Homo sapiens: one gene and its partner. The protein of the gene in region 2 interacts with the protein of the main gene of each other region in a pairwise test. Each region holds a gene or a part of one and is shown on either strand. Other genes may lie near its edges. The genes, in order: FAM124B and KIAA1958.

Evidence for each region.
Region 1: the proteins of KIAA1958 (region 2) and FAM124B interact in binary tests that used the Homo sapiens proteins (3 or more experiments, as listed by UniProt).

Annotation. Positions count from the first base shown.
Region 1 is NC_000002.12:224,395,420-224,399,241, reverse strand, and holds part of FAM124B (protein FAM124B), read left to right. Parts: intron 1-3,822.
Region 2 is NC_000009.12:112,661,066-112,664,887, reverse strand, and holds part of KIAA1958 (uncharacterized protein KIAA1958), read right to left. Parts: 3' UTR 1-3,822.

The DNA of each region.
Region 1 (3,822 bases), on a different chromosome or scaffold from region 2:
TGTAATGTGTGTGTGCAGCAAGGGACATGATTTTAATCATTCCTGTCTTTAAGGCTGACTGACATTTTTGCTATGGAACCACAGTTTAAACAACTTAGTTACTTTGGAAAGTTGAGTCACATTTGGGGAGTGTAGAAGAGTTTTTTGGATAAAGAGAAACTCCATGAATTGTATGAAAAGAGCCCTCTTCCTCTCTGGATTGTCCCAGGAGCCTGGCCACTTCTCAGGTGTGAATGGGGCATCAGCCCCTCACTCTTTTGTTTTTGAGACAGAGTCTCTCTCTGTTGCTCAGGCTGGAGTGCAATGGTGTGATCTCAGCTCACTGCAACCTCTGCCTCCCGGGTTCAAGCAATTCTTGTGCCTCAGCTTTCCCAAGTGGCTGAGACTACAGGTGCCTGCCAACATGCCCAGCTAATTTTTGTATTTTTAGTGGAGATGGGGTTTCACTATGTTGCCCAGGCTGGTCTCAAACATCTGGCCTCAAGTGACCACCTGCCTCAGCCTCCCAAAGTGCTGGGATTATAGGCATGAGCTACCACGCCCAGCTGCCTCTCACTCTTGATAGCCCCCTTGGACATCACCTTTGTCCTGACCTCCAAACCTCAGAGACTTCTGCTTCCTCACTCCAAAACACGCTTTGATCTCCTCTTGTTAAGTCAATGAGTCTAAGCTTTTGCAAACAGAGTGAGAGATCGCCTTCTGGAAAATTCTGCTTCTGGTGTCATATAATAAAAGTGCCTGAGGAAAGTGTGTAAAGGCTCAGCCATAATCCAAAGACAACACATTGTAGCTCCTAGATAGCTTTTGATTCTTTGAATGGAGTGAATTTTTCAGGATAGAAAATTCTTGGGCGTGGTGGCTCAGGCCTGTAATACTAGCACTTTGGGAGGCTGAGGCAGGTGGATCACTTGAGGCCAGGAGCTTGAGACCAGCCTGGCCAACATGGTAAATCCCCCTGTCTACTGAAAATACAAAAACTAGCTGGGCATGATGGTGTGCACCCGTAGTCCCAGCTACTCGGGAGGCTGAAGCAGGAGAATCGCTTGAACCAGGGAGGCAGAGGATGCAGTGAGCCGAGATTGTGCCAGTGAACTCCAGCCTAGATGACAGAGCAAGACTCTGTGTATTAGTCTGTTTCACACTGCTGATAAAGACAGGCTGGAGACTGGGAAATTTACAAAAGAAAGAGGTTTAATTGGACTCACAGTTCCACGTGGCTTGGGAAGCCTCACAATCATGCAGAAGGCAAGGAGGAGCAGTCGCATCTTACATGGATGGCGGCAGACAAAGAGAGCTTGTGCAGAAAACTCTTGTTTTTAAAACCATCAGATATTGGGAGACTCATTTACTATGAGTGAATTAATTCACTGTTCACTCATGCCTTAAATAGCACCCCAGTCACCTCTTGAATGCTTTGCTGCTTAAAAATTTCTTCTGCCAGATACCCTAAATCATCTCCCTCAAGTTCAAAGTTCCACAAATCTCTAGGGCAGGGGCAAAATGCCGCCAGTTTCTTTGCTAAAACATAATGAGAGTCACCTTTGTTCCAGTTCCCAATAAGCTCCTCATCTCCATCTAAGACCACCTCAGCCTAGACCTTATTGTTCATATCACTATCAGCATTTTTGTCAAAGTCATTCAACAAATCTCTAGGAAGTTCCAAACTTTCCCACATTTTCCTGTCTTCTGAGCCCTCCAGACTGTTCCAACCTCTGCCTGTTACCCAGTTCCAAAGTCGCTTCCACATTTTCAGGTATCTGTTCAGCAATGCCCCACTCTACTGATACCAATTTACTCTATTAGTTTGTTTTCACGCTGCTGATAAAGACATACCCGAGACTGGGCAATTTACAAAAGAAGAGGTTTAATGAACTCATAGTTCCATGTGGCTGGGGAGGCCTCAAAATCATGGCGGAAGGCAAAGAGGAGCAAGTCACATCTTACATGGATAGCAGTAGGTGGCAAAGAGAGGGCTTGTGCAGAGAACTCTCATCTTTAAAACCATCAGATCTCATGAGACTCATTCTCTATCACGAGAACAGCACAGGAAAGACCCACTCCCATAATTCAATCACCTCCCACTGGGTTCCTCCCACGACACATGGGAATTGTGGCAGTTATAATTCAATATGAAATTTGGGTGAGGACACAGCCAAACCATATCACTCTGTTTCGAAAAGAAGAAAAGAGGAGAGAAGAGAAGAAAAGAAAAGAAAATCCAGCCTAAACTTCCTTGGGTCCTGGGGAGAGGGGCTGGGTAGCGAGTCTGGCTTCTGTAAGTGAGTAGTCCAGGCCTTACACAGTGTGCTCAGGATCCAGATCCCAGCTCTGTTATCACTGTCTTGGCCCTATCCTCAGCCAGGCATCCGCCAGGGTCGCCAGCTGGCTGCTAGCAGCTCTGAGGGTTACATCCTTCATGTGGATTCCAAGTGCCTTGCCCCACCATGGCGCAACAAAATGTCTGGACTTCAGTTAGACCAACTAGGATCAGATTCTCTTCTCTAAATCAATTATTACGTGCAGGAAAGTGAGATTATATGGATCAGTTTAGCCCCGAGGCAAAGGCTCTGGCTTCTACCCCTAGATGCTGTGTGGTGTTCTGTGGGACTTTTAGGGAAGGTTGTGGGTCTCCAGAGAAGATCAGGGCGGAGGAGACAAATACAGAGTGGTCCCAAATGGCTGATGTTCAGCAAAAGTAAGAAAATTATACCTATTAAAGGAAGAACCATAACCACAAACTAACCTCTCTGCAGACCATCCCTCCACATGGCCAGGATGGAGGCGTGTGTGCAGAAGACCTGAGTGTGAGGGGAGCTAGGCCGAGGAGGGGCAGTGAGAAAGCTTTCCTGAGTAGCAATGCCCAGATCTGCGTGAGCTGGGTGGCCCAGGAGGAATTAGCCAGTTGGAGAAGGGAGCAAGGGTGTCTCAAACAGGTGACCGTGGGTGACGATGTTGGTGTGGTGCTGCTTAGCAGGCCATGCTCAGCAAACTTCCTGAGGTTTCATGTGGCTGGAGTGAAGGGAGGGGGAGTCAGGGGAAGAGGATGGGCAGGTGGCCTGAGGCTAGATCAGTGGGAATGTGGTCAGCCACTGGAATGTAAGTACCAAGAGCGGGGGGACTTTTTGGGCTCACTCCTGTGAACCTAGAACCTAAGGTCAGTGTCTGGCACATGGTAGGCAAAAACATCCTTCTACAAATGAACCCTGGCTAAGTAGCTTCTATTCTATCCTTGGTGAAATGAGCAGTCACTGATGAGTCCTATGAATGGAACTGACATGGATTATTTGTGTTATGAGGGTCAAATGAGAGAATGTACATGGTGGTGCTTGGTAAAGTAGAAGCTCCTGGAGACCATGTAACTGCGGTGCAATTGTGATCTGTGCATGTGAGAGGCTGTCAGCTGTCTCTGCCAGCGCGCCCAGTGAGCAATGCGTTTTCCACATGACCTCTTGCCATTGCAGACAGTCTGATGCCTCTCAGAGTCTAGAATGGGTGGTTTTGATGACAGCGATATGAGCATATCAAATAGATGTTCAGTAAATGAATGTATGAGTACATGAGAAGGCAAGTCCATGTTTATTCATTCCTCAGAACTTTGTTGAGTTCTTGCTCTGGGCCAGACATTGTTTTTCCTTTGGCAGTTTTAATTCTGCTGTCTCAATTCTTAGTGGGTGCAAAATGATAGTGGGTTCAACCTTCCCTTTATTCGTTCAAACAGTCCCTCTGCTTTTCTCCCTGTGCTTTTGCCTCTGGTGGTAGTGACAGTGTCAGTGTGTTCTGGGGGAAGGTAGCATGGGTGATGATGTCCGCCTCTTTTTTTAA
Region 2 (3,822 bases):
CAAAGAAGTCTTGGGAAATTCTGTTATGTCAGAATACACATATCAGACGGAGGAACTTCCAGAGATGTTCATTTAGTTATCATACCCCATGGCCTCCTCTTCTCTTAGAAAGGGAGGGCAGCGGTAGGTCACCACAAATCCCTCCCTCCTCCTGTTTTAATAAGGGTGATTCATTTATATGGGAAAATGCAACAAAGATTTTTACTGAGGAACACTGCCTACAAGATGGAATGTTTTTCTTTTAACACAGAGTATTAAAAATTCACTCCAAAAACAAAAGCATTCAAAAATATATACAAGTTTGAAACATTTAATACATACTTCTGTTCAGAGCTGTTACCAGCTTTTAACTATGTATGGGCCTTATCTGAGACTACATTGGAGATCATGTAGAGAAAATGAGGTAACTCTTCTTTGAGGTCTTCACTGTTTGCATTCATTGATGCTTAAAGGTAACGTCTACTAGCTCAAAAGTTTTTAGCAATCTACATCTCATAAAAGCAACAAAGTGATGGATGTTTGATAAGGATAATATTTAGCATTCGGTTACTTTATTTAAGTGGTAATGGTGTGGACTGTGTTAGCCTAAACTGAGAAAAATGATCAATATTCTGCTGCTTCGAGATAGCAAAATAATTTTAGAAGTTGTGGAACTTGAAAATTAAAGGAAAGTCTTATTCCTAAAGAAGGCATCCCAATATAGTGAGAAGCACTTAATTAGGAGACTAACTATCTTCAGGAATTAGGAATTTTGTGTCCTAGCTCTGCCACTTCCTAATTAATATGAACTTGAGGAATTGCAGAAGTGTAACACGGTTCACCGTGAAGACGATCCATCCCACTGATGGCACTTTATAGCTAAGCAAAGTGATATCGGCATTTGCCCAAGTGAGGAGTGAAGTAGCTCTGAGTCCAGTTATCTTTCAAGTACAGCAAGATGCTTCCGTTTCTACAAGAGTATTACTTTGTCCAGATTCTCCTAATGACTATGTCTATGAAAATGCTGAGTGTGGCATATAATGCTTGATGCTTTTAATAAGCTTGAATTAAAATAAAAATCAAAGTAACAAAATTTCACATTTCTTCAAACACCATTTATCAGCCAGGGCAAATTAATGTAGCATAAAATCCAAGGAAAGCTGGAAAATGCCACATGACCAAGGAGACCCTTCTGTCACAGCTTTGGTTAGGTACTTCCATAAAATTCCTTTTTGCAAACACACTAAACAATGGAAAAACCTTCTCATAAAGCCCCATAAGGCTTTTCTGTTCTTCCTTCACTTGTTTTTGCTTATATCTGAGGTATCAGAGCTTGGCTGTGTTGGAGGTAGAATTCATGGGCGAAAATGTGTTAACTTGACCAGATTATCATGTTTGGTTTCTTCTTCAAGTTTAACAGTTTAAGGGAGACAGAATCTCCATAATGGAAGAAATAAGTGGTATAATGCAAATTAGTTAAATAATATTAATTATTACCAAAAGTTATAACTAAGCTGGCTAACATTTATTGCATGCTTATGATGTGCCTGGTACCGCACTAAACTATATTCAATTGAATCACACCCTTTAAGGTGACATCCTAGCTTCTGTGCCAGAGTAAGCTTCCAACAGGGAGTCTGCTTAGATTCCGGGGGCCGGCGGTGGGGGGGATAGACAGAAAGTAGGGCTCCCTTTACAGCAGATATGAAAGGTGCTGTGGACAACAGCTCACCTGAAGGACACCCTATGGGTCCTCTCATAACACCTACAGTACCACCAGCCTTGACACAGAGCCCAGGGGCAACTTGTGCTTCAGTCAACCTGTGAATTCTTGATATTTATTTCTACTTGGGAGCATAAAAAACCCAAAGGTAAGTGGAGAAAACGCTCTTTACCTCCCCACTTCTTTCTCTGGGGATTCTCCTTTCTCTTGCATTAGGCCAAGAGCAGAAAATCCTGGAGTCCCCAGAAGGTAAGGTTTAGAGCTGACTGGAAGCCAGAACAACTGCCTTAGAACGCCAACGAGGACTGCTACTCTGGCCCCCTTAAGACCTCGGAGGACGGCTTTGGCCAAACACATGGACAGGTGCTTCGCCATTTTATTTTTTATTTTTTTTGAGATGGAGTCTAGCTTTGTTGCCCAGGCTGGAGTGCAGTGGCATGGTCTCGGCTCACTGCAACCTCCGCCTCCCAGGTTCAAGCAATTCTCCTGCTTCAGACTCTCAAGTAGCTGGGATTACAGGCACCTGCCACCACGCCCGGCTAATTTTTGTATTTTTAGTAGAGATGGGGTTTCACCATGTTGGTCCTGATCTTGAACTCCTGACCTCAAGTGATCTGCCCACCTTGGCCTCCCAAAGTGCTGGGATTATAGGCGTGAGCCACGCGCCAGGCCGCTTTGCCATTTTAGCAGGCTTACCAGGCTTAACCACATATTGTGCGTGTGTGTGTGTAAACACTTATGTATATGTGTTTGTGTGTATACACAGACACACACACATATACATAAATGCATAATAAAGTACCTAGTACAATGGGTGGCACACGCTGGCACTTGATGACTGTGTTTTCTTCCTCACTCTTGTTTCCCAAGGTGGCATGTCACAAACAGCTTTTAGGCTGCTCAGACACAGTTCTTTCATTCCATCAGATGCCACTGAAGATTCGCCCTCCTGATTATTAATTATAATAATTCACTTCAGAACCCAGGGATTTTATGGAACATCAACTAGGTGACAGGCAACACATTTGAGGCAGAGATGATTATTTAGCTGATGAAAAGCCACTACCAACAGAAAGATTACAACCTCTGGAGTAGTTATTGCTACCTTTGAAAAGGTCAAAATCCGAAAAGATCCCAGTGATTCCTAACGGCAATTTCTACTTGAATCTATTCAAATAAAAATGGAGGTTTTAATTAATTAGGCTGCAGGCTTTGCCCAATAGTTCACATAGGTTGTATTTCAGTTTAAGTGCAGAACCAACAAAACAAAATATCCTTTGGGTGTTTAGCAAACTAAAGGAAATTGTACCTAATGTTTTGTGTATTTCTTTTAAATCAAAACCCTAAGATCACTACAGGAAACCACACCAGAACGTTATGTGATATCAAGTCATACACTGATGATTAAATATTACCTGTTATTTATATACAGATGGAGAAATGCCGAAACTAATCTCTATTCAGGAAAGGTCAACTAGTAAACAAACTTATAAATGCACAGTGACTAAAAAGGGAATAACATTAAATCTTAAGGCAGCATTGGTTGAGTCTTCTCTGGTAAAGGAAGTATTACATATGTCAATGACTAGTGTATGATTTTTTAAGAAACCAATTAATTAAAATAAATACTAAAATAATGTTTTCAAAAAGAAAGAGGACTGATTTTAAGACTTCTACAAAATGAATTTGTATTAGAGTTTTAATTTGGGATTAGAAAGCATATTAGGAGCATAATGGAATAAAGTTACACAAGATTTTCCTCAAATGCAAAGTCAAGGTCCCTAGAAATTATTGTTACTCTTAATGAGCACTCTTTGAGCTCCTTTTTCACTTGTTGTTGCACTCAGAGTAGTTATTAGAAAATTCTGCTGATTTTTAAATAATGTGGTCAGGTTGCATTTTACCTGAGTGAAATGGTTTCAAACTGCATTACCTACCATTATGCGCTAATTTTATAACTACATCCTTAATGCTGAGTTTGCTTACCTGGTGGGGTGCCTAAATCATCGTGTCCCAAGTATTGGTGCCATCCTAAAATGATGACATGTAATTGTGGCTGAAAAGTCATACATTGACAAAAATATTCCAAATCTCTTTAATAAAGAAAGTTTGGGGATCTG